Regions from separate parts of the Homo sapiens genome. Here regions 2, 3, 4, 5 and 6 are each reported to be linked to region 1. The links are microRNA targets in miRTarBase. Many come from high-throughput screens and were not tested one by one. Region 1 holds a microRNA gene; each other region holds the end of a gene's coding sequence. Distances are from middle to middle.

Evidence for each region. The annotated mature microRNA hsa-miR-940 reads AAGGCAGGGCCCCCGCUCCCC and lies in region 1 at 1,672-1,692, shown strand. An mRNA with a match to its seed (bases 2 to 7 or 8) in the 3' UTR can be bound and repressed. Matches are read on the target gene's strand: a 7mer-m8 pairs with bases 2 to 8, a 7mer-A1 pairs with bases 2 to 7 and ends in A, and an 8mer does both.
Region 2: miRTarBase lists PLLP as a target of hsa-miR-940. The part of its 3' UTR that is shown has no 7-base or 8-base seed match.
Region 3: the mRNA of ARPP19 is a reported target of hsa-miR-940. Seed matches in the 3' UTR shown: 7mer-A1 at 2,192-2,198, 7mer-m8 at 1,706-1,712 and 7mer-m8 at 601-607.
Region 4: miRTarBase lists GRSF1 as a target of hsa-miR-940. The part of its 3' UTR that is shown has no 7-base or 8-base seed match.
Region 5: miRTarBase lists ZFP69B as a target of hsa-miR-940. The part of its 3' UTR that is shown has no 7-base or 8-base seed match.
Region 6: miRTarBase lists SENP5 as a target of hsa-miR-940. Seed matches in the 3' UTR shown: 7mer-m8 at 2,679-2,685, 7mer-m8 at 3,238-3,244, 7mer-m8 at 3,264-3,270 and 7mer-A1 at 3,979-3,985.

The regions. Positions count from the first base shown.
Region 1 is chr16:2,270,135-2,275,244 of GRCh38, forward strand. MIR940 (microRNA 940) reads left to right here and starts at 1,613; the gene lies at 1,613-1,706. It overlaps MIR3677HG (MIR3677 and MIR940 host gene), which reads left to right. Exons shown (of 3, transcript NR_132988.1): 2 at 1,542-1,757; 3 at 2,853-2,938. MIR3677 (microRNA 3677) reads left to right here and starts at 579; the gene lies at 579-638. MIR4717 (microRNA 4717) reads left to right here and starts at 4,486; the gene lies at 4,486-4,557.
Region 2 is chr16:57,252,755-57,257,861 of GRCh38, reverse strand. PLLP (plasmolipin) reads left to right here. Exons shown (of 4, transcript NM_015993.3): 4 at 833-1,765. The coding sequence ends at 949. ARL2BP (ARF like GTPase 2 binding protein) reads right to left here. Exons shown (of 6, transcript NM_012106.4): 6 at 4,227-5,107. Among named protein-coding and RNA genes, the nearest start is that of ARL2BP, 10 kb to the right of the region's middle.
Region 3 is chr15:52,547,789-52,552,898 of GRCh38, forward strand. ARPP19 (cAMP regulated phosphoprotein 19) reads right to left here. Exons shown (of 3, transcript NM_006628.6): 3 at 1-4,316. The coding sequence ends at 4,146. Among named protein-coding and RNA genes, the nearest start is that of ARPP19, 19 kb to the right of the region's middle.
Region 4 is chr4:70,819,737-70,824,736 of GRCh38, forward strand. It overlaps GRSF1 (G-rich RNA sequence binding factor 1), which reads right to left. Exons shown (of 10, transcript NM_002092.4): 9 at 4,558-4,632; 10 at 1-1,125. The coding sequence ends at 4,583. Among named protein-coding and RNA genes, the nearest start is that of GRSF1, 18 kb to the right of the region's middle.
Region 5 is chr1:40,463,197-40,468,299 of GRCh38, forward strand. It overlaps ZFP69B (ZFP69 zinc finger protein B), which reads left to right. Exons shown (of 5, transcript NM_023070.3): 5 at 1-519. The coding sequence ends at 393. Among named protein-coding and RNA genes, the nearest start is that of ZFP69, 12 kb to the right of the region's middle.
Region 6 is chr3:196,930,447-196,935,446 of GRCh38, forward strand. It overlaps SENP5 (SUMO specific peptidase 5), which reads left to right. Exons shown (of 10, transcript NM_152699.5): 10 at 367-4,268. The coding sequence ends at 477. NCBP2 (nuclear cap binding protein subunit 2) reads right to left here. Exons shown (of 4, transcript NM_007362.5): 4 at 4,960-5,000. Among named protein-coding and RNA genes, the nearest start is that of NCBP2-AS1, 6.9 kb to the right of the region's middle.

The sequences.
Region 1 (5,110 bases):
TAGGCGGAATTCTCTGAGGTGGCATTGGAGTCCAGTGGTCAGAGGTGCTAAAAGGCCCCAAACCTAGAGCCCATGCCCAGGGCCCCACTGACACCTGGTGGGCAGGGGCAGCCTGGTGACCCCACATGACATGGGTGGGCGTGACGCAGCACCAGCTGGGCCGACAGCCCTCCCCCTGCTGGTTTTTAATGCTCTGCAGTAATGTCATTTGGCCTGCGAATAAGCTTTCACACATTTTATATTAAATCTACAAGTATGATTTATTCAGGCACTTACGAATTTAATCAAATTTGTTTCTAAATATTACTGATTTTTGTTATCAAATGTGCCATCAGCTGTTGAGCTTTGAGAATTGAGCATCCTGGCTTTTGCCATTTTGAGGATCAGCAGAAGCATGTCTGGAAGAAATGTGAGAAAATAAAACTCAGGAGCCTACCCCCACCCTGCCCTTCCAGGAGCTCAGCCCCAGAGCCAGGCTGCTAAGGCCATGGAGGCTGAGGGCAGTGGAGCTGGGGTTTCTGGAGCCTCAGGGGCCCTGGTTTGCTGGAAGGGCAGGCAGGGCTTCATGGAGGGCATTAGGCAGTGGCCAGAGCCCTGCAGTGCTGGGCATGGGCTTCTCGTGGGCTCTGGCCACGGCCCTGAGCTCCTCCCCTTACCTTCCCAGAGCGGAGGGTCACCTGCTGAGCTGGGCACGGGCTTCTCGTGGGCTCTGGCCACGGCCCTGAGCTCCTCCCCTTGCCTTCCCAGAGCGGAGGGTCACCTGCTGACAGTTTGGGGCGGCTCTGTCTTTGAGAGCATGCCCTCATGAAGGCAGAATGTCCTCCCTGCCTCCATCCTCTGTGGCCCGGTGGCTCCTGCAGTGCCTGCCCTCAGAGGCTGGTGGCCTGGGACACAGGGATGAGGATGGGCTTGGTGGTGCTGCAGGTCACAGTGGGTCATGAAGGAGCTTTGGGGGTGTTGCATTCTCTGGTAAAGCACAGCAAGGGAGCCCTTTTACCCACTACTAAAACCTGGCTCTGCACTGAGGCCATGCGCAGCCCAGTCAGGTGGACGAGGGGGTAACGACTGGACCGTGGGGAGGCATCAGAGGAGGAGCTGCTGAGAGGCGGGTCACCACAGCCTGGTGCCTGTCTGGAGAGGGTGGGGCTGGGGGAGGTGCTGGCCAGGTCCATGGGGGTGGCCAGGCTGGGTCTGAAAGGGCCTTGCGCTGGTGTGGGGTGAGCTTGGTCTGTTGGGAGAGTATGCAGTTCATTGGGGCCTCCCTGGCTCCAGGTTTGCATGTCTGAGGAGTGGGTATCATCAGGGCCTGGGGCCTCTCCAGTGGGCATGTCTGAACTCTCCCAGGGTTGGGAGCCTGTGCTCATCACAAGCTCAAAGCACTCCATTTCTGCTACCATGAAGTCAAGGATGGTGACTGTGAGCCGCCTGGGACCTGAGCTGCCTGGGACTGTGACTGAGGCACCCGGGGTGCCTCTTAGGGCCTTGGGTTTGGGCCCATGGCTAGATGAGCCTTGGTGATTCTGTGGTATTGCCTGGGCCAGGTGGACCCAGGGGCAGCTGCGGCTAGTCCATTTGGAGCTCCTTCAAGCCGAAGCATCCAACACCAGTGTCTGTGAGGTGTGGGCCCGGCCCCAGGAGCGGGGCCTGGGCAGCCCCGTGTGTTGAGGAAGGAAGGCAGGGCCCCCGCTCCCCGGGCCTGACCCCACTGCTTCAGCCCCCTCCTGCCTGCCTACAGCCTGGCCTCGAGGGCCCATCAGGTGAGGGGACCCCACCTGCACCACCCCGTCCTACCTCCTGGAGGAGGCCTTGCCCCTGACAGGCAGCCTCCAGCCCTCCCACCCTGATCCCTGTGTGGGATGGCCAGAGCATGCCCAGCATGCTGGGGTTCGGCGGTGGGGGGCATCTGGAGGGAGGGACATGTCAGTTCGGGGAGGGATGAGCAGCCTAAGTGACTGCAGTGCTGGGCCATCTCCTGCATGGTGGAGCTCCCCTCGAGCCGCCTGTCTGCAGGGGGCTCTGGCCAGTAGTGCAGCCGGGCAGGGTCTGTACGGCACAGGCTGCACCAGCCTCCATGCAGACCAGTCTGTGTGGGAGTGGGGGTCTCAGAGGGCCCAGCCGGCCTATGCCATGAGCATGGTGCTGGCCCAGAGGGGGAGCTGAACAGCAGCTGGGTCGGTGCGTTACCTGGTGGGGCAGCAGACAGCAGCTGCCCTGGCTGGGGTTCAAGCCCCGGGCTGGCCTGGTGGAATCCCCTCTCCGTCACCCCCAGGTTCTGTTCTTGCAGGTGTCAGGCCTGGGGCCTTGAGACAGACCTGCAGTCTCCACCACAGCCACAGTGGGTGGGGTCTGGGTCCTCACGGAGGTGATCCTCCACCCCCACACCTACCTTGTGCATGGCAGTGGTGTCTCCTGGAGCTGGTGAGACCCCACCTCACTCAGGAAACCCCCCAGACGCCCCCAGGCAGAAGTGGCCATACTCCAGGGCCTGCATCCCTGTGCCCCACAGTGCGCCCTGGCCGGTTGGTTGTAGGAACTCAGAAAAGCAAAGCAAACAGGATGGTTCCCTGCTGGACACATTACATTCCCTGCTGGACACATTTCTATTGCAGATCTTTAGTCCAGGATTCCAGGGTAGCCAAGGTCACCTGAGTCCTGGGGACTCTGGGCCTGGTCTCTGAAAGCAGCCAGTAAGACAGAGATGGGAAACCCAGCAAGATGGAGTGAGCCAAGGGCACAGTTGGGTCCAGGCGCAGCAGGGAGCTGCCTGGGGGTGACACACACTTGACGGAGGCCACTGCACACACCCTACCCCGGCCTGAACTTGAGCACTTCCTTTTTTTTTTTTTTTTTAGATGGAGTCTCACTGTAGTCCAGATGGAGTGCAATGGCGTGATCTCGGCTCACTGCAAGCTCCGCCTCCCCGGTTCACGCCATTCTCTTGCCTCAGCCTCCTGAGTAGCTGGGACTACAGGTGCCCGCCACCACACCCGGCTAATTTTTTTGTATTTTTAGTAGAGACGGGGTTTCACCGTGTTAGCCAGGATGGTCTTGATTTTTCGACTTCATGATCCGCCTGCCTCGGCCTCCCAAAGTGCTGGGATTACAGGCGTGAGCCACCATGCCCGGCCAAGCACTTCCTTGAACACAGAGGTGACCATGAGGAGGGAGGCGTGAACCAGGATGACGGGGCAGCAGATGGAGCCTGCCTCCCTGAGACCTCAGGTGACCGAGTGCTGGACTGCCTCCTCCTGCCTACATGGCTGAGAAATAAACTTCTTTTTCAAACCACTGTGACCTGGGGTTTTCTGATACCCTCAGCAAGCCTGTTCCTGTGGCCTGGTGTGGGTCCCCTGACCTGTGGCCTGGGCTGCCTGTATCCGGCCTGCCCCTCTGCTCCGCTGTAAACCTGTGATGGCAGTGGAGGGGCTTGGCCTGGGCCCGCCCCACCGCGAGGTCTTCCCCTCTCCGAGTTCTGGGTGTGGTTTCAGTTGAGCCACGCCGTTGGACTGGGCCGGCCTGGAGGACAGAAGGCACAGGCTCTTCCACATACCTGGCTCGTGGCCCATGGGCCGTCTGCTCACGGGAGCCCTGCACCAGGCCATGCAGAGCAGTGAAGTCAAAACCTCGTTTCCCAGGTCTAAGGTGAACTGGGAGCAGGGCAGGAGTTGGCTCTGTCAGATGCCACAGTTGTTTGGGGACAGTGTCCGTAGAGAATGTGTGGCCCCCCTCCGTGGTCTAGGGTGGAGCGTGGATAGGCCGGTCACTCCTATCCCTGGGCCCAAGGCTCTTTTCCCCTGCCCTCCCGTGGGCTGGGAACTGCCACAGCTCAGACAAAAATCGGCCAGGGCAGGGTCCTGAGGCTTCAGTCCCAGGCTCCTTAGGGCACCCCTGGTGACCCAGCTCCAGCACTGAGTTTCCAGAGGCCTTGAGGATTTCCCTGGGATGCCAGATGGGCCCTTCCTGCTGCTCCTGGGGTCATCTAAGCTCCAGGCTTGGGTGCAGCCCTGGGCCCCTGCCACAGACGCCCTGAATGCACCTGCCCCTCCCGGTCCCCACGCAGCAGCCTCCTGAGCTGCGGATCATTTTCCTAAGAAGGCATTCTACTTGTGCCAGTCCTTACTTAAAGACCCCTGCTGGTGCTGGCAGCGTGCTACCGGGAAGGATGGTATCTCCTGTGCGTGTCCTGTGTACGCTGGCCTCACACGTGTGTGCCTCATGCGGGCTGTGCCCTCAGTCCTATACGCTCTCCCCAACCCTCTTTTAGGGTGTCACAGGAGAAAAATGACACATTCCTAAATCTCTAACACATGGGCTTGAAAACAAGTCTGAGGATGCCCTGCAGAAGGGCCATGGGCATGGACATGGAGCTGGGTGGCCTCGTGCACTGACCTTTCCCTCTTCCTAGCCCCAGGCCCGACCTAGAGGCCACAGCCCCTGCGGACAGGCTGTGGGGCCAGAAGGGCCCACTTCAGAACTTTTCTCGTGGGCAGTGTTTAGGCCACAGCCACCCATGTGTAGGGGTGGCTACACATGGGTGGCTGTGGCCTAAACACTGCCCAAACACGTTATATTTTTTATAACATGGAACTAGATGGCAGAAGTTTAAAGGGAATAAAAGAGCTACTGGAGACGATTTGCAGCTTTCATAAATTTCCAGAGACTGATAAAAACACAGACTTGAAATTGTCCCAAATGAGCCAAAGTGATGAAAACAAGTCTTTTCTAAAACTCTGAATTCTAAGGGAATGTAAAATGCAGAAGTTCAAATCGGGTTTAGAAAACCATAAGAAATAATAGTGCATTCGCCGGGCATGGTGGCTCACGCCTGTGATCCCAGCACTTTGGGAGGCCAAGGCAGGTGGATCACTTGAGGTCAGGGGTTTGGCAGCAGCCTGGCCAACATGAGACCTCGTCTATACTAAAAATAAAATTTAGCCATGCATGGTGGCGCATGCCCTTAGTCCCAGCCACTCCGGAGGCTGGGGTGGGAGGATTGCATGAGCCCAGGTGTTTGAGGCTGCAGTGAGCTGTGATACCACCACTGCACTCCACGCTGGGCAGCAGAGCAAGATCCTGTCTCCAAAAGACAAAACACAAAACAGTGCATAAA
Region 2 (5,107 bases), 55 Mb from region 1:
TGCCACACTGCCTTAGGGTCACGTGCCCCCTTGGAGAATGTGAAAAACATGCTCTCCCACTGACAAGTGCACGTGCAAAAACCTTTTGGTTTAAACCATTCTGGGAGATTCATAGGCTCTCCCATGAAACCCAAACTCTGGGCCCACGTCAGGTGGCCAGTGAAGTGGCAGTAGTCCCCTCCACGCCTGTCACCCTTCACACCACCAGGCCCTGCACACCATCTCCTCCCAGGATCCTGCGACACCCACAGTGAGGGAGAGGAAGGGACTACCAGTTCCTTTTGACAGACAGGAGGCTCCTGCTCAGAGAAGTTGGACGCCAGGCCTGGAGCCACGGCCAAGCCCAGGGGAGGGCAGGGCCTCAATGGGCACGCATTTGGTTCCTTACTCTTCCTGATGAGGGCAGTTTTGAAATCAGCAAATTCAGTGATGGGGACAGAGACGGGGAGCTTCTGAATGTGGCTGCAGGTGTTAGTATAGAGGCTTGAACTGGTTCTAGGAGATTCCTAGGGTGTCCTTTGAATGTTGTCTTTTTAGAACTAAATCCTTGCTAGGTGTCCCCTCTGTCACTCTTATCTTCTCCTTCATTGCCCTTATCACAATCTGACAGGCCCTGCCTGTGGTTCTTAGCTGTTTCCCATGGTTAGAAGGTAATGTTGGTATCCCAGGACCCTGGTGCTCATCAGCCCCATGATAAACAGCTGTGAAATGCATCTGGCTAAGTGTGAGATGGTGCGGCTGCCACAACCCCTCCTGCCTGGCCTGAGATCTGGTTGGAGCTTGTGTCACTGTCACCCTCTCGGTCCTTAAGCCCTTCTCACCTCTCTTTCAGTTCTTTGCGTGTTTGGTGATGATCGCCTATGGAGTGAGTGCCTTCTTCAGCTACCAGGCCTGGCGAGGAGTAGGCAGCAATGCGGCCACCAGTCAGATGGCTGGCGGCTATGCCTAAACCACCTGTGCCACGGCCCCCTCTGGGGCTGAAGCCGCCGCTGGGTCACAGAGCAGGGTCACCCTGCAAGCCTGAAGCTGGGGAGCCCTGCGTGGAGTCAGCCCAACAGGGACTGCATTTGCTCCTCTCTGCCCGTCAGACATAAGCTCTCACAGCGCTAAGGAAGCAGGCCCAGGCTGGCAGGCATCTCGGCTTGCAGGAGGCCAACTGCTGAGACCTCTTCTCCATCCCCCTTATTCAGTGGAAGATGACGGGGGATCTGAGGCTGTGTCTCTGCCTTGTCTTTAGAGGACTTCAGCGTCCAAGACTGGGGCCCACCCTTCTCACCAGCACTAAATGCACTAACAAGGACTCCAGACCTGCAGCCCCAGACCCGCCGTAGTATAAGCCTAACAAGCAACACGTAGCACCTTAGTCTTTGTTCCAGGAGAGCTGAGCAAGCTGGTGAAACCACTCTCCTTCCTTTAAACACCGTTTCAACCAACCTCTCCCTGGAGCCAACCTGTAAAAAGTGGGTTGATTGCTGACAGCATGGTCTTCCCTCCCTGCATTTCAGACATACCAGTTACTGAAAGCAAATCAGTTTTAAGTGATTTCTCAGTGCTGAAAAGCCTGTCCAGGTTTCCTTCCCTTTCCCAAGCCTCTCTCTGTAATACTCCCTTTGGGCGAAGCTAACATCGGTGCCTCCCCGACCTTGCTGACTAGGCACATGGGACGCAAAGGAGGGAGGGAAGCAAGGCCTTGCCTGGCGAGTTGTCATGTGGTTGGTGGTGACTGTTTTATTTTTTTTAATAAAAATAAAGATGAGAGAAATTATTTGGACAAGATGTTGGCAAATCACTTTTACAGGTGCTTGTAACCTCCAGGAGACCTCAGCTTGACTGTAGAAGATGCCTGCTGTAGGGCAGTTCACGTTCTGGAGTCGTTCAGCACCACCTGCGAACTCTTTGACCGGAGGAAGGCTGCCTATACTTCCTGCTTGCTGGGTCTGGAACAGTCCTGGTTTATGCTGTTTGTGCTGGCATAAATAGAATAGCACGGCCTTTTATTCTCACAAGTGACTCAGTTTGACAATAACTTAGTCACCCTTGCTTTGGGCAGGTTAGGTGAGCTTACTGAATCAAAGATTTCAACAATATCATCTACCTTGAAAGTCTGTGAAGCTTGGAGGTCATATAATCAAGGTGGCTGGCCATGCTGCCTGCTCAGAGCTGGTAGAGACAGCAGAGGAAAGCAGCTGAGTACTCCTGAGCTTATTTTTCCAACACCACAGAACAACGTTCTCTGAACAATAAGGTAAAAGCATTTCTAGGTACCCTCTGTACCCTTTTGTTATTTTTTATTTTTATTTTTTGGAGACCGAGTCTTGCTCTAGTGCCCAGGCTGGAGTGCAATGGCGCAATCTTGGCTCACTGCAATCTCCGCCTTCTGGGTTCAAGCAATTCTCCTGCCTCAGCCTCCTGAGTAGCTGAGACTACAGGTGAGCGCCACCACGCCCAGCTGATTTTTTGTATTTTTAGTAGAGATGGGGTTTCACCATGTTAGCCAGGATGGTCTTGATCTCCTGACTTCATGATCCGCCTGCCTTAGCCTCCCAAAGTGCTGGGATTACAGGTGTGAGCCACCACACCTGGCCGATTTTTTTTTTTTTTAAGAGACAGGGTCTTGCTCTCTTGCCCAGGTTGGAGTACAGTGCCACAACTACAGCTCACTGCAGCCTTGACTGCCCAGGCTCAAGCAATCCTCCCACCTCAGCTTCCTCAGTAGCTTGGACTACAAGTGCAGGCCACCATGCCCAGCTAATTTTTGTTTTTTTTTTTTTTTGAGATGGAGTCTCACTTTGTCACCCAGGCTGGACTGCAGTGGCGTGATCTCGGCTCACTGCAACCTCTGCCTCCCAGATTCAAGCGATTCTCCTGCCTCAGCCTCCCGAGTAACGGACTACAGGTGCGTGCCACCATGCCTGGCTAATGTTTTGTATTTTTAGTAGAGACGGGGTTTCACCGTGTTAGCCAGGATGGTCTCGATCTCCTGACCTCGTGATCCGCCCGTCTCGGCCTCCCAAAGTGCTGGGATTACCAGCGTGAGCCACTGTGCCCGGCTGATTTTTAAATTTTTTGTAGACATTGGGTCTCGCTATATTGCTTAGGCTGGTCTTAAACTCCCAGCTTCAAGTGATCCTCCCATCTCAGCCTCCCAAAGCGCTGAGATTATCGGCATGAACCACCACACTTGGCCCTGGTATAAATATTAATAGCATCACTTTTTACTCTAAAGTCTCGGAGTTTGAATAATAAATTAGTCCTTCCAGGAGTAAGTTATAAGAGTTTGGTTTTAAGGAAGGGCAATACACTTAAATGTAAAACAAAATCCCAGGCAAGTTAGAGAGCTCACCCCTCTTATGTTTCCAACATGAATCAAAAGCCTGTTTCAGGGGGGACATTAAAGGCATTCAGTCAATGCTAAGGCTCAGCAGTTTGTGTGACTACTGCTTCCCACTGGGGAGGAGTCCTAAGCAAGAGGACTGGGGCTTCCTCACCCCAGGGCAGGTGGGAGCCCCATCAAAGGTGGCACCTGACATCACAGTCTAAGTGTCTGAGGATGGAGAGACAGGCTGCTAGTTTATTTTAAAAGAAATCAGAATGTCTACTTATAATATTAAGTGACAACAGACTTGCCTCCTTTTTGCTGAGCAGAAAGGGTGAAAAAACCAGCCAGGCATGGTGGCTCACACCTGTGATCCCAGCACTTTGGGAGGTGGGTGATCACCTGAAGTCAGGAGTTCAAGACCAGCCTGACCAACATGGTGAAACCCTGTCTCTACTAAAAATACAAAAATTAGCTGGGCGTGTTTGTGGACACCTATAATCCCGGCTGCTTGGGAGGCTGAGGCAGCAGAATCACTGGAACTCGGGAGGTGGAGGTTGCAGTGTGCCGAGATCGTGCCATTGCACTCCAGCCTGGGCAACAAAAGCAAAACTCCATTCCCAAAAAAAAAAGAAAAAAAAAAGGGTGAAAAACCAATTTGCCTTTATCATCGTTTTTTCATCATTTAATCTCTGGACTTGTCCACTGGCCTTTTCTCAAGTAGGCAGGCTGGTCCACAGGTCTTAGCAAGTGCTCCCAGCATGCCTGGGCTGTGGTGGACCTCCCATTTATAGACAAAGCAAGGGAAAGCAAGCCCAGGAGAGGTGGCATTTAAAAAAAAAAAAAAAAGACCAAAGCAATAATTAATAACCTTATGGCAGTGGCTACATTAAAGAAAGAATACAACTCATTGAGAATGGTGGTTCTTGCGAAACACCTGAAGTTTTACTCATGGTACAAAAGTATTTAATAAGTGACACATCAGTACAGAAACACAGAGCTTGTAGCTTGTCCTTTAAAACCAGAATGGCCAAGTGAAAAGTCAGTACAGATTCTTATTTTTACTATTAAAAAAAAAAAATCAAAGGGACACACTGGGAATTGAACTACTATGCTTTTTCTTCGTTCTAGAGATGACATATATGTTTTCTGATAAGTAATCTACCACACATTGCACTAAACCAAAGCATACAAACAGCCAGTAAAGCTGTGCTCTACCTGCTACTCATGCTGGGCTGGACAGTGGAACACCATCTTGGTAGGAGAGATTTTGACAGGAAGAAACTGCAGAGTCCCTACCTAACCCAGAGAACCTTACAAACTGGTTTATACACAAAGGATTTTCAGCAAACATGCAAACACACTAACATGCTATAGGAATATGTTTTAGTCTATTTCTAGCACACAGCATACATTCATAGGTGCCCAGTAAAATAGGAATGAATGTCAATGTAGAAAGCATTTTTGCCTTCACAGTACTAACAAACACCTAAAAAGCACACAGCATATAATACTTTGATCTTTAAGTGGATAATCATGGAAGTTCCAAGATCACATCCACTAGGTTAGCCTGAGTATTCATCTATAAAAATATTTTTTTTTTCAAAAATAATGCTTAAAAGAGACTTCTAGAAACAGTGGGACTACATCAGGACCAGAAGACAGTGACACAAGGACTGCAAATGTTAAGACTAGGAGTAGCTTTTCACATGGAGCTTTTATGTAGAGGACGTCTCCTTCTGTTGATTCCTACAGCCGAGACAAGATGTGATCACAGGAGACTCCAAAATC
Region 3 (5,110 bases), not on the chromosome of region 1:
TTTAGAAAATTTTAAATGTGTCCTAAATTGTGGCATATTGAAAACGATATTAAGGAACAATGACTCATTAGCCCTAAATACAATTTAATGAGTGCCATCAATGGGCTTAAGAAATAAGCAGGGATGGGGGATAGAGAGGCAAAATGAGGTGAAAGAGAAAATGGAAAGTGGAAAATATGTTTGAACATTGGAGAATGTGAAAAGGCCACCAAACTGCTTTAGTTATCACTCAGAAGTGCTCTTCCCATTGGCTACCTGCTTCTGATCACCCAAACACCAATTTTAGAGCAGAGGAGCAGTAATCCCCTTTATCTGCAATTTCACTTTCTGTAGTTTGTTACCTGAGGCAACCTTGGTCCAAAAATATTATGTGGAAAATTCCAGAAATAAACAATTCATGTTTTAAATCATAAGCCGGCCGGGCATGGTGGCACATGCCTATAATCCCAGCACTTTGGGAGGCCGAGGCGAGTGGATCACCTGAGGTCAGGAGTTCGAGACCAGCCTGGCCAACATGGTGAAACCCCATCTCTACTAAAAGTACAAAAATTGGCTGGGCATGGTGGCGGACGCCTGTAATCCCAGCTACTTGGGAGGCTGAGGCAGGAGAACTGCTTGAACCCAGGAGGCAGAGGTTGCAGTGAGCCAAGATCGCACCACTGCACTCCAGCCTGGGCAAGAGTGAGACTCCATCTCAAAAAAAAAAAAGAATAAAATAAAATAAATCACAAGCCATCCTGAGTGATGAAATCTCATGATCTCCTGCTCTGTCCTGCCTGGGATGTGAATCACCCCTTTGTCCTGCTTATCCACACTGTATACTACCTGCCCCTTAGTCACTTAGTAGCCGCCTTGGTTGTCAGACTGAAAAAACATAGTTGATAAAGGGTTCAGTACTATCTGAGGTTTCAGGCATCCACTAGGGGTCTTGGAATGTATCTCTTACAGATAAGGGGAGACTACTGTATTACATTTCAGCTTCCATAAAACTTTACTAATTTGGATTAAGAACACAAGCCTGATTTAGTAAAAAGTATCCATAAATATTCAGAGGTATAGTTTTGTTTCATCAAGTAAAAAGAGCAACTAATTCCAACTGTTGAAGTAGTAACAAGTAAAGGCTTCACCAGGCTTTCCTTGATGAATAGTTAAGACATATTTTTAGGTCATCAGCACAAGATTATTGAATAACTTGTATGCTACAAACATGCCGCTTCCACTCATCGAAACAAGCCAATAATCCTTACTATTCCAACTTGCTGAGAACCATGTCAGATGCTGCGTTCAAGAATGAAATGTTCCTCAAAACTGTTCTATCAAATGTAGTAGCTATTGGACATAAAACAAGTAATTTATTTCAGACTTTAGTTTTCATGAAGTATTTATCAACAACTTCAATTTATTCCAACATTAATTTATGATAGGACAGTTATTAAAATTAACCATTTCTGAGACTGTAACTTTGAAATTGTAAGAAATGGACAATTAAGCTCACTAGTCAAAATCTTGATTCAAGTGATGATCCAATAGCTTACAAATGTCTTCAATAAACTGAGCTTTGAGGCAGAACAAAAAAAAAACAAAAATCTAAAACCTCTCTATCCCAAGCACCAATAATGGAGGCTAAGCAATTATACCTACAAATCCTTAACGACAGGTCTCTCCTAATGAAAAATCCTGAGATTTAAGCACTGTGACTTACAGAAGGCAGGTTGGCTTAATGAGGAAATTTACTTTTAATAAAAAGACAATCAGCAATATTTTATTTTGGGCACTTAGCATTTCACAGATCCTCAATACATTTTGAGGTAGGTCAAATATTAATTATGTATTTTACAAACAAAACTCAAGCAGTTGTTTTATTACTTGTCCCAAACCACAGGAGCAGTTCTATCGTGGTCAGGAATAACATGGTCTCTGATCTTTCAGATTAATCTTTCATGTGTGAATTTAATGGTAATTACTTGCAAATATTCATGAAAAAAACCAAGACTAGATATAGAAATTCTACTCTGGGTTATTTTAAACTTCTTAAATTGATTCTATAATGAGTATATACTTGCTCTCATTACAAATATATATATATAACTGATCTTTACATTACAAATGACCACAGCAGTGACTGTGTTGCTTTTCTGCCTTTTGGGGTGAGTAGATCAGGAAGATAATCAGCAAGCTTTCCTCAGAGCACTAGGCAGCCTTTAACTTAAGGTGCTATGTTTGAGGCACCATTGACTATGATTTGGGGTCATAGGAGAGCAGGTATACTGATGGAACCAGGATTCAGAAAAGATGCCTGGATCCAAAAACGGGAGGCTCTCTGCAAGTCAAAGATGAAGAGAAAAATAGTAGCATCTCAAGCTACTGATCCTGAGTATCATGCTACAGCATTACAACTACTTGTGAGAGGAGCTCCTACAAGAGCAGTAAACTTGTCCCAGTAAAGTCTGCTAAGTTCTAACTAGATAAGCCACAAGTAAAACTAAATTGGTATTTTACTAAAGTGACATCTACAGAAGCAAACATCTAAACATTTTTAATAGGAGTTTTACCTGTCATGTAAATTACTCTAATTGTCACAAGCCTAATTCAATTAGCTTGTCATAATTCCTAAAATAATTTACCAAAATTCAGCTCATCTTGACATAGGTTCTTGAGCCAGTATTCCGAACCGTTTCATTATAAAGTTCCTTTTATTTAAACAATTGTAGAATATTAGTAATAATAAAGGATCAAGAATAGTTAACTTGAGCCTAGGAGTAAGGTTGCAGTGAGCTGTGATTGCACTACTGCACTAGAGCTCAGGTGACAGAGCAAGGCCCTATCCTAAAAAAAAAAGAGAAAGAAGTTAACAACTGAGAAATTAGAAGGAAAACGCCATTATTGTGTTATATAAAAGAGTAAGGATATAGACACCTATGCTTCCATATACAACAAACAGCTCAATACCATTTGAGTCAAAGAACAAAGGGGAAAAAAAAGCAGGTGGCAGAGGGCATGGAATGCAGAGTATTGAAGCCTTTTATTCTAGGGTCTCCAAAACTGAGTGTGGAAGTAAAAAGTTTCTACATTTAAAAAGTTTATATAAATTACATGAATTGCAACTTTCATAAAAATCAAAATGAAAGGTTCTGCATAGGACAAAAGATATGCCTAAGCAACATATCGTATTTGCACAAGGCCACTGAATGTCATGGATATTAGTAACAAATGAAAAGCTTAAGTCTATGGCAGATTGAACTAAGATTTCAGTTTGGTATTCTATAAGCCCGAGATTGTAAACTACTCTTATTATACAAAAGCTATAATGATTTACAGAGTTTTGTGTAGGAACTCTTGTGCTTCTGGTTGGCACATTATCTACTTTTTAAGTATGTGAAATTAATACAGACATTTGTGAGAGGTTGTGCAAAACTACTGTATTTACAAAAATGGCACAAAAGTGAATTCAACAGTTAATGCACATGCATACTTCATTCACATCTTCAACAACAAAAGGTATTCTAACTCTACAGAACTGAATATTAGCTTCAACGGCAGCTGTTAAGCACTAGAGTCACATAAGTTACACCAGAATGGGCAAATATTGCCCAAGTAAAATTCTACTGTTAAAGCTGAAACAGGTTTAAGGCCATTCAAGTTCAAGCACAGAGATACAAATCTTTCAGAGCCCCATCTAGTTGTGTTTGAAATATGTGACCTTTCTTCTAACTTGTGGTCTTAAACTTCTGTTTTACAAAATCCAAAAGGTAAATACAGAAGAAATCAATACAATAGAGATTATATTAAATAAGAGTAACATACAAAGCTATAATTAAGATGAAGTAATGAAAGCCAAAACATTAAAATTTTAAAACTTGCTTGTTACTTGTTAGAACCAGTACTACACTAGAAGTTAGGTAATATATACAACTATTTTCAAGTAGTTTACTTATGTTGCTCTAACATGTCCTCTTCACCAGTGCACTGTTAAACTAATCAAAAACTCTACACACGTATATTCCACAATAGCAGCACACACTACTGCTACCTGCAAAGCTGTCAGTCTCAAATGACTAGTGAATGAAAGGAAATAAAAAGTAGATAAGTAACATATTAAGGAGAAATAATGAGATTTAGCAGATTCATGCAGTTCAGCCTCTTAATCAGCCAGCCAGCTTGCTAGCAACAAGGGACGGCTTCCGTTGAGGAAGGTCTTGCGGAGTGGGAATGTGGTCACCAGTGACCTCCGTCTTATCCGGAGCTGCAGTAGGAAGTTGCTTGTTCTTCATTTTTGCTTTAGCCATGTTGTAATCCCCAGAATCAAAATATTTTTGCTATAAGTAAAAACAAAAAAAATTCAGATTAGAGCTTAGCAATTACTGATTTAAGATGTCGATGCAACCCCATACTGTCCGTATAAGGTTGGTCTAAAAGAATTTAAACAGGAATATTAATTAGATGAAATAGTCTCTGTACTGAGTTCCAGCATAAGTCAACAGCCGAGAAGCCCCCCTTCAGACTGGGCACAGTGGCTCACTCTTGAAATCCCAACACTTTGGGAGGCCAAGGCAGGCGAAACACTTAAGGTCAGGAGTTCCAGGCCAGCCTGGCCAATATGGCGAAACCCTGTCTCTACTAAAAAAAAACAAAAAAAACAAAAAACAAACATTAGCTGGGTGTGGTGGTGCACATCTGTAACTCCAGCTACTCCAGAGGTTGAGGCTTAAGAGTCATGTGAACCTGGGAGGTGGAGGCTGCAGTGAGCCAAGATTGCCCCACTGCACTCCAGCCTGGGCAACAGAGACTGTCTCACAAAAAAAAAAAAAAAAAAAAAAAAAAGAACCTGCCTTCAGGCTTTCTTGAACCATTCTGGTTCTAATAAAGAACCATCAAGACTAATATAATATTAAGCTATTTGGGAAGTCCCAGACTCAGTGAAATAAAATCTTTCATTTACTAATGGAACAACCAGGTGAAACACTTGCTTAAATTATTTTATAAATAAAACACATAATTTGGCTGGGCATGGTGGCTCATGCCTGTAATCCCAGCACTTTGGGAGGCCGAGTTGGGTGGATCACTTGAGGTCAGAGGTCAGGAGTTTGAAACCAGAACGGCCAATATGGTG
Region 4 (5,000 bases), not on the chromosome of region 1:
AAAGAAAGCATACAGGATTTTGATTCTCCTACACAGGTGCACATAAAGTTAGTTTATTAATGACTATATTTTGAAGCCAGCCATTTTGTCCAATATTTAAATAACAAGCTGTTTAATATTAAAGCAGAAAGTACTGCCACATTGTGACAGAAGTACAGCTTTATCCATAAACCCTTCACACAATTATACATTAAATGCTATTTTTATTTAAGCAAGGCACCCCTACTTGTTCTAAAATATGGGATGTACTACTCCATTTAAAAAGCAAATGAGGAGACTGATTTTTTTCCTATCTAGAGCTGGTTTAAATTCAAGTGAAGCCATTAATTTTCTTACCAGTCTGGACTGTTCTGACATGTCACTTCACAGTTTTGAGACTAACAAACACCCTTAGGTCTACCCCAAACCAAAAAAAGCCAGGGAGGGACAGTTTAGACAACTTTTAAGTTAAGACTAGAATGCCCCCTTAAGTAGATAGGCACCACCGTTATACGCCTTTAGCACAAGGCTTAGAAAGGCAAAACATTTCTAAAGACATAAAACCGCCAAATTGTCATTTACACTAAGCTGTGGTATTTTTTGTTTTGATTTTTAAAAATTCCTATCTCTAAGTAATCAAATACAGCAAAATTTAAAACTATTCTGCCAAACCATACCAGTTCAAAGGTCTGAAACCGTTCTTTGCTTTGGTGAATGTTTGGTTAAAATAAATCACTGTTTCACTCCATGAGAAGTTTTACATCAGAGCACTCAATTCACAGGCAAAAAAAAAAAGTTACTTTTTAAATGAAACCGTTTAAAGAACACTGCTGAATAAAAATATGTGGTCTTTACAATGAGTAACATATCATCTATGAAAACAAACCATTTAATCATATAAAACAAAGACCATATTTTTAAATCAGATCCTGGACAGTTTAAACAAAAATTTTAATTTGTGGTTTATTTCATAATCCCAAACTGGATCTTTCATTTCTTCTTCTAAACAGTCCACTATGAAACTTTTCTTAGAAGCAATTAACCCAAAACACCAAAATCATTTCCCTAGCAGTTGCTGCTAATAAACTGGAACTGTATATCCCAAGTCCAAGAAAGATGTGCAAATGAAATGCTTCTTGCTTCACCCTAAAAATAAAACAAAAAATATTGTACATTTACTCAAGATGAAAAAGGATGGCACACATTCCCATACCATTTAAAATTGCAAATTCAAATTTTTCTCCTTTCTAATTTAGTGCAAGCTATCTGATAAACCGAGTTAAAGTGAGGAAAACTAGTCAGGCATTAGTGTTTACAGGCTGGTACAAAAAACTGAGTTTCAGAATATATTTTAAATAGATTTTAGCTATTATAAATATTTAACACCAAAGAATTGTGGGACTTCATATCCAAAAATAGCAACAGAAGAGGCCAGGCACGGTGGCTCACGCCTGTAATCCCAGCACTTTGGGAGGTTGAGGCGGGCAGATCAGCTGAGGTCAGGAGTTCGAGACCAACCCGGCCAACATAAAGAAACCCCGTCTCCACAAAAATAAAAAATTAGCCGGGTGTGGTGGCGCATGCCTGTAATCCCAGCTACTGGGGAGGCTGAGGCAGGAGAATCACTTGAACCCAGGAGGCAGAGGTTGCAGTGAGCTGAGACTGTGCCATTGCACTCCAACCTGGGCAACGAGAGAAACTCCGTCTCAAAAAATAAATAAATAAAAATAAAATACAAAACTTAGCCGGGCATGGTGGCATACGCCTGTAGCCCCAGCTACTTCATAGACTGAGGCAGGAGAATCGCTTGAACCCGGGGGGCGGAGGTTGCAGTAAGCGGAGATCACACCACTGCACTCCAGCCTGGGCGACAGAGAGAGACTCCGTCTCCCAAAAAAAAAAAAAAAGCAATAGAATAGGATATAGTAATAGAATGAATGTCCGTGTTTTTTTGTTCCTTTTTTTTTTTTTTTTTTGAGACAGAGTTTCGTTCTGTCATCCAGGCTGGTGGAGTGCAGTGGCACCATCTCAGTCACTGCAACCTCCGCCTCCCAGATTCATGTGATTCTCCTGCCTCAGCCTTCCCAGTAGCTGGAACTACAGACATGCACCACCACACCCAGCTAATTTTTGTATTTTTAGGAGAGACAGGGTTTCGCCATTTTGGCCAGGCTGGTCTCAAACTCCTGACCTCAGGTGATCTGCCTGCCTCAGCCTCCTGAAGTAATGGGATTACTGGAGTAACCCACCATGCCTGGCCCCATGTGTTTTCAAGAAATCATTACAGGTAAGTGTCTCAAAAGAATGAGCCATTACCTGTAGAAAAGTGACTGCAATACAACAGTAATACTTACAATACCTTATGGGAAAAAAAAAAGACACCATATATTTAATCGAGGCAAGGAACATCAAGATGTATTAAGCAAATCTCACGGGTAGGTTAACACTATAAAATTATGTACTTCCTAAGGCAAAAAAAAAATGCCATTTTAGGAAAAGGAAACAGTGGCACATTAACTGTGTTTATGGATGATACACTCTGGTTTCACATGGTATCCTTTTAAAAATACCTTAAAACAGAAAATGGCTGGGCGTGGTGGCTCACACCTGTAATCCCAGCACTTTGGGAGGCTGAGGCTAGCGGATCACTGGATGTCGGGAGTTTGAGACCAGCCTGGCCAACATGGTGAAACCCCGTCTCTACTAAATATACAAAAATTAGCTGGATGTGGTAGAGAATGCCTGTAATCCTAGCTACTTGGGAGGCTGAGGCAGAAGAATCACTTGAACCCGGGAGGCAGGGGTTGCAGTGAGCTGAGATTGTGCCACTGCACTTCACCCTGGGCAAAAAGAGTGAGATTTCATATCAAAAAAAAAAAAAAAAAAAAAACAAAAGTAACCTGAGAAAATGGAAAACGTGTTTAAATTTAAGTGGGGAAAAAAAGCTAATGCAAGTCACATATCCAGTCTATTACGATTTATAGCTACTAAAGGTGGCTATTTTTTGGCAAACAGCATGATGTTGGAAATTATGCATAAAAATTCTATATGGAGATAATGCTCAAAGCTACCATATAAATCATAAGGAATTATGGCTGGGAGCAGTGGCTCACTCCTGTAATCCCAGCACTTTGGGAAGCCAAGGCAGGTAAATCACTTGAGGCCAGGAGTTAGTTCAAGATGAGCCTGGCCAACATGGTGAAACCTCATCTCTACTAAAAATACAAAAAAATTAGCCAGGCATTGTGGCGGGCACCTGCAGTCCCAGCTACTCGGGAGACTGAGGCAGGAGAATCACTTGAACCCAGGAGGCGGAGTTTGCAGTGAGCCCAGACTGCATCACTGCAATCTAGTCTGCTCAACAAAGCAAGACTCTGTCTCAAAAAAAATAAAAAGTAGGCCGGACACAGTGGCTCACGCCTGTAATCCCAGCACTTTGGGAGGCCGAGGCAGGCGGATCACCTGAGGTCAGGAGTTCAAGACCAGCCATGACCAACATGGAGAAACCCCGTCTCTACTAAAAATACAAAAATTAGCTGGGCGTGGTGGTGCATGCCTGTAATCCCAGCTACTTGGGAGGCTGAGGCAGGAGAATCTCTTGAACCCGGGAGGTGGAAGTTGCAGTGAGTGGAGATCGAGCCATTGCACTCCAGCCTGGGCAACAAGAGTGAAACTCCATCTCACAAAAAATAAATAAATAAATAAAATAAAATTTAAAAAAAATGAAAAAATATCATAATTAATTCTATTTCCCAGCAGAATTTTCTTTTTTTTTTTTTGCCCCCCACATCTGAGAAGCCAGAGCGAGAATTTTCATTCCTTATATTGACACTTCAATTATCATTAGTTTGATCTTTATTAAAAAGGAATGGTGCCAGGCGGGGTGGCTCACTCTTGTAATTCCAACACTTTGGGAGGCAAAGGCAGCAGGATCACTTAAGGCCAGAAGTTCAAGGCCAGCCTGGGCAACATAGTGAGACCCCATCTCTACAAAAAATTAAAAAATTAGGTAGGCATGGTAGTACACACCTGTAGTCCCAGCTACTTGGGAGGCTGAAGTGAGAGAATCACCTGAGCCCAGAAGGTTGAAGCTGCAGTGAGCTATGATCGCACCACTGCTAGCCTGGGCAACAGAGCAAGACCTAGTCCCTAAAAAAATTTGAAAAATAAAAAGAGAATGGTTTCTACCATATTACAAATTAGTGAGTGAATGATTATTAGTTTATCAATAGCAAATAATTTCCACAGTTGTATCTCTCTCTTTTTTTTTTTTTTTTTTGAGTCTCGCTCTGTTGCCCAGGCTGGAGTGCAGTGGCACAATCTCAGCTCACTGCAACCGCTGCCTCCCGGGTTCAAGTGATTCTCCCGCTTCAGCCTCCTGAGTAGCTGGAATTACAGGCACCCACCATCATGCTCGGTTAATTTTTGTATTTTTAGTAGAGACAGGGTTTCACCATGTTGGCCAGGCTGGCTTGAACTCCTGACCTCAGGTGGTCCGCCCACCTTGGCCTCCCAAAGTACTGGGATTACAGGTGTGAGCCACTGCACCCAGCCCACAGTATTACCTCTTAAATTTACCTTATTATCTGGAGCCCCTAGAGTCTTATTTTCCTTTTGGACATGAATTCAGGAACAGTTCAATATACCTATGATCTGAGGATAATGAGAAAGATTAGTTTTAAAAAGTTGAAAAGGTAGAAAAATATTACAGCCATTTTTCTCACAGTTCAGACAGCAACTCAAACCCTTTGCCCTTTCCTTTCCCTAATTAAAAACAAAATTTAGGCCAGACACGGTGGCTCACGCCTATTGTAATCCCAGTACTTTGGGAAGCCGAAGTGGGAGGATCACCTGAGGTAAGGAGTTCAAGCCAGCCTGGCCAATGTAGCGAAACCCCATCTCTACTAAAAATACAAAAATTAGCCAGTGTGGTGGTGGGTGCCTATAGTCCCAGCTACTCGGGAGGCTGTGGCAGGACAATCACTTGAACCCAGGAGGCGGAGGTTGCAGTGAGCTGAGAT
Region 5 (5,103 bases), not on the chromosome of region 1:
CACCTTAGGCAACATGAGATTATTCATACTGGTGTGAAACCCTATATTTGTAATGTATGTAGTAAAACCTTCAGCCATAGTACATACCTAACTCAACACCAGAGAACTCATACTGGAGAAAGACCATATAAATGTAAGGAATGTGGGAAAGCCTTTAGCCAGAGAATACATCTTTCTATCCATCAGAGAGTCCATACTGGAGTAAAACCTTATGAATGCAGTCATTGTGGGAAAGCCTTTAGGCATGATTCATCCTTTGCTAAACATCAGAGAATTCATACTGGAGAAAAACCTTATGATTGTAATGAGTGTGGAAAAGCCTTCAGCTGTAGTTCATCCCTTATTAGACACTGCAAAACACATTTAAGAAATACCTTCAGCAATGTTGTGTGAAATATACTAAACATCAAAGAATCTATGTTGGAGCACAAGATTCTAAATCAGTGGTTCCCTGATCCCTCAAAAATCCATTTGTTTTTGGATTTCCAAAAACGAACATTAAAAAAAAATGGTTTGGCACAATGTTCCCAACTCTTAATTTTGCCATATTAAAAACACAACACCTATTATCAGCATTGTTTCAGAAAAGAAAGGACATTTTAATATTTTTAAATGTAGGAACAGTTCCCCCCTCCATTTTTTTTTTTTTTTGTTTTTTGAGATGGAGTCGCTCTGTCACCTGAGCTGGAGTGCAGTGGCGTGATCTCAGCTCACAGCAACCTCCACCTCCCAGGCTCAAGCAATTCTCCTGCCTTAGCCTCCTGAGTAACTGGGATTACAGGTGCCTGCCACCACACCCAGCTAATTTTTGTATTTTTAGTAGAGACAGGGTTTCACCATGGTGGCCAGGCTGGTCTCGAACCATTCAGGTGATCCGCCCATCTCGGCCTCCCAAAGTGCTGGGATTACAGGTGTGAGCCACCGTGCCTGCCCCTCCCCCACCCCCGACCCAGACCCTTTTTTAAAAAACAGTTTCACTCTTGCCCAGGCTGGAGTGCAGTGATGTCATAGTTCACTGCAGCCTCAAACTCCTGGGCTCAAGCAGTCTTCCTGCCTCAGCTTCCCAAGTAGCTGGGCCTACAGATGTGCACCACCATGTCTGGCTAATTTATTATTATTATTATTATTATTATTATTATTATCATTATTATTATTGTAGAGACAGTCTCACTATGTTGCTGGACTGGTCTCAAACTCCTGGCTCCAAGCAGTTCTCCCACCTCAGTCTCCCAGTATGCTGCGATTACAGACATGAGCCACCGTGTCTGGCCAGGAACAGCCTGTTATATTACGTCAGCTTTATGACAGACTCCCACATTTATCTTTACTTTTCCCAGTTCACTATGTGCCAGTGAAATTTCATGGCGTGTTAGTGATCTGTGGATTAACTTTTGAGAAACACTCTTTTAAGTATCCCTTTAATAAATCAGAATAAAATATAGTACAGCCTTTTACTCTAGCCCTTTATATGGCTAGAAGAGGTAGAAATTAAAATGTTGCTTCTCATTTCTAGAAGAAAAAATGTTAAAGGGAGTTTTCTAGCATTGATAGATAACTTACTGTACACGAGATGCTTATTTATATTTTATGGTTTTATATAGAGCAAGAATTGGCAAACTTTCTGTAAAGGGCCAGATAGTAAATACGTTAGGTGTTGTGGGCCATGTGGTCCCTGTCACACCTATTCAACTTCCCCATTTTAGTACAAAACAGCCAGAGACAATATATAAACTACAGTATCTGAACCTTGGCACTACCAATATTTTGGACCGGATAATACTTTGCTATAGGAAGCTGCCCAGTGCATCCTGGGATGTTTAGGGGAATCCTTGGCTTCTACCCACAAGATGCCAGCATTCAATGCTGATAGCTGCCCCTCCCCCAGTTGTGACAGTCAAAAATGTCTCCAGACATGGCCAGGTGTACCTAGAGGCCAAAATTGTCCCTGGTTGAGACCCACTGATGAATGTGTGCAATAGTGGTTCCCATAAACTGCATTTAAAAAACAGCTGTTAGGTTTCGTTTGGCTCAAGGGCTGTCATTTTTCACTCCTCCCCCCATAGAGTATGTAAAATGATTAGAAATGACAACAGACTATCATTTAGTATCAGATTAGTGTGTGTATATGCCATAAATTATTTCCTTAGCAATTCCTTTAGTATTTTTGTTGCAATAATTCTTTAAACGCTACATTTGTAATGCTGTCTTGGAGCCTAGGAATTATTTTTGGAGATATTTATGCAGACTTCCCTCTATAATGATCGGTTTTTTATTATGGTTAATCCATAAATATTTTGAGATGTATCTCTAAAAAACGAGCACTCTTTGAAAACATAACCACAATGCCATTATTATACCTACAAAAATTAACCACAATTCCTTAAAACATAATGATGCCTTTTTGAAGAGAGATATATTGAGACTTCATTCTGGGGAGAAACCTTTCAGATAACTTTATTTACCTTTTCCTTTGCCAAGCATACAACATTAGATTTGAAATATGCTTTGTATCAAGTGGAAGTGTCTCTTAAGATAGCCCCTAGAACAACACATCAAGAGGCCCACCAAAGAGGACCAGAGAAAGGTGACTGAAGGAGCCATACTCAGGCAGGGAAATACGGAGAGAAAGCAGAGGAATTGGCTCCTAATGCTTCACTGTACTTAATGAAATAGATACTCCATCCTTACAGACATAATTGGAAGTAAGTCAAGTTCAACTTCTTTGTTTTATATGGAGATAGAACAGTTTCAATCACGTGAGTATTATAAGTGTGAATTATCTAAAGTAAAGCTATAAATCCAGAATATATACCAGTATCTCTAGAATTTTTCATATTACTACATTTACTTAAAAAAAAAGCTGGCCTCTAACTCTTAAGTCCTGTATGACTGATGGGCAGAAAAAGAGTGAGGTATACACTGTTTCTTAAAATTGTTCTACCATGTTTCTATGGTCTTAGATTTCCCAAGAATTTGAATTTCTCCAATTGCTTATTTCCCTGAAAGACATGACTATGACTTTTCTCTGTAGTTCCTGCCTCAGTGATCTCATACAGTCTTTGGCTTAAAATACCGTCTCTGTTTAACAGCTGCCAGATTCACATCTCCAGCCCAGACCTCTCCCGAACTCCAGCCTTGTTCTAACCTTTGGGCCGTTTCACTAGCTGTTGCAGATGCCCTATACCCTTACCTTCTCATCTTTGCTCAATTGTTGCCTTCTTACTGAAGCCTATCCTGTCCATACTATTTAATACTGCAGCTGTCTACCTTCCAGATCGAGAAATCCCATACCCCTTTCACCTGCTCTATGTTTTTCATATCACCTATCACCCTAGATACTTCACATATTTGTGTTTATTGTTTACTGTTGTTTCCCCTGGCTATAATGTAAGCTCCATGTGGGCAGGGGCCTTTGTTTTTTTCACTGATATATCACAAGTGCCTAAAACAGTGCCTGACACGCAGAAGGGACTCAGTAAATATGTATTGAATGGTTTTGATTTGAACTGAATTGAACTATGTATCCATGATGCAAGTAAAGAAATGTAATCCATATACTTTCCTACCTACATTTTATATGTGAGGAAATATTTTTTGTTTCCTTTTTCTTTTCTGTGCAAGTGGACCAATATTTGAGAATCGTATACCTTTGAGAATCATAGCTGATATACTTTAAGATAAAAGGGTATTTCTGTGTTAATTTGGTTTGGTTGTTTTTGTTTGTTTGTTGAGACAAAGTCTCACTATGTTGCTCAGGCTGGAGTGCAGCGTCATGATCATGGCTCACTGCGGCCTCAACTTTCTGGGCTCAAGCGATCCTCCCACCTCAACCCCCTGAGTAGCTGAGACTACAGGCACATACCACCACACCTGGCTAATTTTTGTATTTTTTGTAGGACGGGGTTTTGCCATGTTTCCCAGGCTGGTCTCAAACTCCTGAGCTCAGGCAATCACCTGCCTCAGCCTCCAAAAGTGCTGGAATTACAAGCATGAGCCACTGTGCCCAGCCTAATTTGTTTAAAATGCATTTAAATGTGGCTGATTAACAACATGAGTTTATCTTTATTTCATGAACCTGAGTGCATAAGCAAACTGGAGGGTATAAAAGACAATAGAGGAGAATATAGAAGCAGACATGAGATGTCAAGTTTTTGGTGGTGAGAAAATAGAAGAGTGGTGACTGACTTAGCAGAGCCTGCAGAAAAGTATACTGGCACAAGGATGTTCCTGGGAAGACAGAGGCCTTGGAGACAGTGGGCATTATGGAAGAAAGAGGGCTGAAAATGGGGATTCATTGAAATTCTAATGTCAGATCCTTAGACCCCCTCACCTACCCATACAGCTGGCTGTTACGCACACATTCCTCCCTCATGCCTTTCTTCATCCCATTACCCTTTCCTCATCCCAAAGGAGACTAGAGGTTTATTCTCTGGTGAAGGACCGGTCTCCCAATGTGCTGGGATTACAGACATGAGCCACCATGTCCGGCCAGGAGCAGCCCTGTATATTATATCAGCTTTATGACAAATTCCCAAATTTGTCCTTACTTTTCTCACTTCACTATGTGCCAGTAAAAATTTCATGTCATGTTAGTGATTTGTGGATTGACTTTGGTGTCCTTGATTCCAGAGTTGTTCTAGAATCAGGGACACCAGACAGTAGAGACTGGGGTAAAAATATGGCTGAAATGGGGACTAATGTAAGGCTGCATATTGAACTGTGGGGCCCTCAGCACTCTTTTCTAATGAAAACCAAGTTTTCATCCCTTCAACCATCTTCCGTCCAACCCCAGCAGGAGATTGGAGGAATCCTCTGGGGAAACTAGTTGGCAGGCTGGGCGTGGTGGCTCATGCCTGTAATCCTAGCACTTTGGGAGGCCAAAGCTGGTAGATCTCCTGAGCTCAGAAGTTCAAGACCAGCGTGAGCAACATGGTAAAATCCCATCTCTACCAAAAATACGAAAATTTAGCCAGGCATGGTGGCATGCACCTGTGGTCCCAGCTACTCAGGAGGCCGAGGGGGGAGGATCGCTTGAGCCTGGAAGGCAGAGGTTGCAGTGAACCAAGATTGCTCTACTGCACTCCAACCTAGGTGACAGAGTGA
Region 6 (5,000 bases), not on the chromosome of region 1:
CAGTAGTTTAAACAGACATGAAAATGCTGCCTTAGATCGGGGTCCCAAACCCCTGGGCCACGGACAGATACTGTCCACATTAGGTTCTCTTAGGAGTGTGAACCCTGTTGTGAACTGCAGATGCGAGGGATCTAGGTTGCTCACCCCTTATGAGAATCTAACTAATGCCTGATAATTCATCCTGAAACCAACCCCCTCTCCCCCAAGTCTGTGGAAAAATTGCCTTACACGTAACCAGTCCCTGGTGCCAAAAAGGTTGGGGTCTTCTGCCTTAGACACTATTAGGTCTGCATTTAGTAAAACAGAATGGGCTGGTCCACAACTCCAAGTGCCACTGAAGTGTTTCTGGGACCTTTTTTTTTGCAGTACTGCAAGTGCCTCGCCTTAGAGCAGCCTTTCCAGTTTTCACAAGAAGACATGCCCCGAGTGCGGAAGAGGATTTACAAGGAGCTATGTGAGTGCCGGCTCATGGACTGAAACTCAGCAGGGACTCTGGGAAGTCTGACCAAGTTGGAGCAGATGGTTTGTTACTTGAATCTCCAAACACTTAGTTGAATTTTTACAGATATTTCAGATCAGTGGTGTTGGGCCACTATTGTTACCTCAAATTTATTTTTTGCCCTTATTCATTTCTCCAGCTACCATGTACTATTGTTTAATGTTCAGTTTGGTTTCATTTTTAATTTTATGGTTCTGTGCGTCCCCCATATTTAATATTTATTATTCAAACGCATGCATATAGACAGAGCATGCAGTGAAGAGTATTAAAAAAAAAAGCTTAGTAGATTTGGTGCAGCTTTTGAAACTTAGTTAGACGTGAACTGAATACAGGTTTCAAATTTACTCCCAGAACCTAAAAATGCAAGATGTTTTTGATACAACATAACTCTGAGAATAGTAAGTGTTCCCTGGGGCATTAAGGGTAGCTGGGGGTGGTTTTGACAAATCCAGTCCTGTTTTACTTTACCAGCGGCAACTTTCACCAACTTCCCTCTCCAAGTGAGTCTTAGAGAGTGCAGTCCATTCCTTTTGAAGGGTGAGATGGAAGTGGTCGTAAACTGACTGGTGTCTTCTGTTTCTGGAGGCACACTTGTAAGCACAGTGGCTGCTTTGGGAGGAGTAAGGTGTGAGAAAAAGCAACCTTGGAGGCCAGTAACAATGACAGATTTCAATCGTGGTTTTAGGAATTATAATACGTGGCATACATCTCATAAAGGCTTTTGCTGGGATATTGAATTCCCTGAATTTTTCTGTTTTCGACCTGTTAAAAAAATCTTAACATCCATCAAACTAGTGGTCAAACAAATGAGAATGCAGCTGTTCTCAGAGTAATTTTTAAGTTGTCATTTCCCTGTGTTGCCTCCCAATTGGAAGAAGTTAAGGTTTACCAAATGCATTTCTATTTCAAGGGTATCTGAAACGTAAACATTCAAAACTGAAGGCTGACTGACTTGAGATGTTTTGCAGGTGGCTGGAGAGAAGAGGGAAGGTAATAGAGACAACTTAGTCCCATGGGAGCGCAGCAACCGTGTCAGGTTCTTTCTCCTGTCCCATTAGTGACCTCAGTAACATGCAGGGTACGTCTGGCTTCTGCATGGCCAGTGCTGACACTAGCACAGCTGTTCTTCTCCTTCTGTTGAACCTCATCTTCTGAAGAAAGGCCAAGTGGCCCTTGTCCATACACTTAGCTGCATTAGGATGAATATCACGCGTCTCACATCTTTAATCCAGCCTTTCGTGACATGTTGGAAAGATACATGTGAAACCTACCCAGTTACCCTTTCTGAATTGGGAGGAAAACCAACCAATGTATGTATGAGAAACTCAGAAGTCTGAATAGAAAAACAAAGTAAATGGCAGAAGATTCTCGAGTTTATGCCCGCGTAGGTTTGGAGTGTTGAAAAAGCTAAAATGTTTAGTTTCACTTGGCCCTGAGGTATGGTTGAGAAGGCTGACTGCCAGCAGTTGAGGATTGAGTCCGACCATGTTTACATGCAGGGTTCCCAACACCAGTGGTGACACTGGGAAGCAGCCCCAGCACTTTCCTCTCCTGAGTCCTCCAGACCCAAAATCCTTAATGTCAAACCAGGTCAGTGTTTCTTACTGTGTTTCAAGTCGTTAAAAAGACTGAGAGTAGAGGCACTTTATGCTGCTATAGGTGGGGTTCTGTCAGCGTTAGGAAAAAATGACAGTTTAGGGTAAGGAAGATCTCATAATGAGTTTTTCAAACATAATTATGCAAACATGAGATTTTTCAAAACATGCCAGAAATTTGCCTCTGATTTTTTTTTTTTTTTTTTTTTTTTTTTTGTGGGGGTGTGGTATACCAAAGTAGCCAGTCACTGGGCTGTCAGTTCAAAATGTCTTGTACTTCAGAGTGAGGAAGTGTTTCAGTTCCTCAGTGACAGAACCTGGCATGCAGAAGAGACAGAATTGTTCCTGTAAGAAAATCAACGCCGAGAGAGAGCTGCCCAAATCCAGTGACTCTTCCACTTCCAGTCTCATGCTTCATAGGGCACCTTGAGGTGTGCTGCCCAGTGTGGCTTAGACTAAATGTTGAGTTTGGGTTTTTTGTTTTTTTTTTTTTTTGAGTCAGAGTCTCACTGTCCCTCAGGCTGGAGTGCAATGGCGCAATCTTGCCTCACTGCAACCTCCACCTCCCAGGTTCAAGCGATTCTCCTGCCTCAGCCTCCCAAGTAGCTGGGATTACAGGTGTGTGCCACCACGCCCCACCGATTTTTGTACTTTTAGTAGAGACAGGATTTCACCATGTTGGCCAGGCTGGTCTTGAACTCCTGACCTCAAGTGATCTGCCCGCCTGGGCCTCCCAAAGTGCTGGGATTACAGGCGGGAGCCACCGTGCCTGGCCAATGTTAAGTATTTTAAAAGTCATTTTAAAATATTTGTCATTGATGAAACTTGGTTTCAGCACACGTAATTGCTTTCCCTCTCTTCTTGTGATTAGGTGTAAACCTCTATTTAACTCAAGTCCTAGATTAGAATGTCCTTTGTCCTGATGTTTGCAGTAATTGCTTCCTTGGTTAATAAAGATATTTTTGAAATATACTCTGGACTGTTGGTGAAAGAGGCAGGCATGGCTTTACTGGTACTAGTTTGGCACTGAACTGTTTGGGTGCCCATGAGGTAGGCAGACCTTATGCTTTTTTTTTTTGAGACGGAGTCTTGCTCTGTTGCCCAGGCTGGAGTGCAGTGATGTGATCTCGGCTCACTGCAACCCCTGCCTCCCAGGTTCAAGTGATTCTCCTGCCTCAGCTTCCCCAATAGCTGGGACTACAGGTGTGCGCCACCACTCCCAGCTAATTTTTGTATTTTTAGTAGAGACAGGGTTTTGCCATGTTGGTCAGGCTGGTCTCGGAACTCCTGACCTCAGGTGATCCACCCGCCTCTGCCTCACAAAGTGCTGGGATTACAGGCATGAGCTACCGTGCCTGGCCTAAACCTTACGCTTTTGAGGTTGAGTGCAGGCCTTGTGATAACTAAGCGCTACTTTTGACGAGCCTTCAACAAGCTGCCCAGTCCTCTCCTCAGCAGACGCATCAGGTTGTAGTTGCATCTTTACAGTGGTCTTTCCTTTTATTAAATCTATAGCAGTGAATATAGATTTGATTCAACTTTTAGTTACGTTCTCTCAAGAATCCTAATCAACTTTCAGTTAGCCTCTTAAGAAAGGGAAAAAAAGGTGCTGCCAGTCATCCCCAAATTATGTTTTTGGCTGTGCATTCTATTTTCTACATAGCACTGAATCTGAGTAACAGTCATCCTGGATTTATAGTTGGAACAGAACAGTAACAGACCTAACTGGGACTCAGCCAGCACTAGCCTCATCTTAGCTGCCCCTTTTCTCTGCTTTGCAGTTTACTGCTTCCCTGGGCTAGCCATAACGGGGTTCTGGGCAGGTCAGACTCTTCAGCAAGACAGTGTATTAATAGTGTGAATTAGATACACTGATGACCTGCTCTGCCTAGTTAAGAAACTGAATTAATCAGCAGTTACAAAGCACATACTTTGTTACGTGCTAGGCTTTGCCTCCTGGCCTCTAGATAATTAAGACGGCCCAGGGAATACCAGCAGAGAAGTGCTAATTGTATTTGGGTGTTACAAAAGCAGACCTAGACGAGCTGTTCACTTAACTGGTACCTGTTGGTCAGAAAAAGAATTTATTTAGAGATTATGATCATGTAAAATTACAGTACTCAACCCTTCTAGCAAAGTATTTTTTTGAAAAATAAACTAAATGCCTTTATAAACTTGTGTTCTCTCGTCTTGAGTAACATGTACTGTTTGGCGAGGAGTAATTTTTTTCTTGTGACATTCCAGTCACGACAGAGGTCATTTCAGAACAGTGAGCAGTGCAGGCCCTAACCAGCTCACCCTCAGAGCAGCAGCACCATCACTCGAATTTTCTACAACGGAAATGTTCTATATCTTCATCTTAGCTTGACTGAGAAACTGAATGTTTAATTCTCACACTTCACTAACATGTATTAATAGTGATGCCTTCATCTGTACGTTTGAATTTTCACTTTTCTCCGATTAAAGTGAGAAACAGGTCAGATGCTATCCATGAGAAATAGGAAAGAATGGTGCAGTAAAGAGACTCACATTTAGTGTTCTCTAGCCCAGGAAACATAAGATGTTCTTAATCCACCCACAATTTCCCTTCCCTTGCAATCATCCAGAGCATGTTTTTTGGAAAACTAACCTATTCTTCCATCAGTAGAGGTTGCTTGGTGCCTATTTGATCACTTTCACAAGAAAATCTGTGCGCTCTCTTCACACGCAGCAATAGTTATTTCCAACTGTCAGTCAATCAAAATGGACACGCGAATTGTCCACACTATTCATAGAATCCCCCTGGAACTCATTCATGTGTATCCAGAGTACAGGAATTCCAGAACACAACCCTCTTTATAGGCCAGGAAACAGGCAGCAACAACGATAAGTTCATCCAGCTTTATTGAAACCTATTACAGAAGACA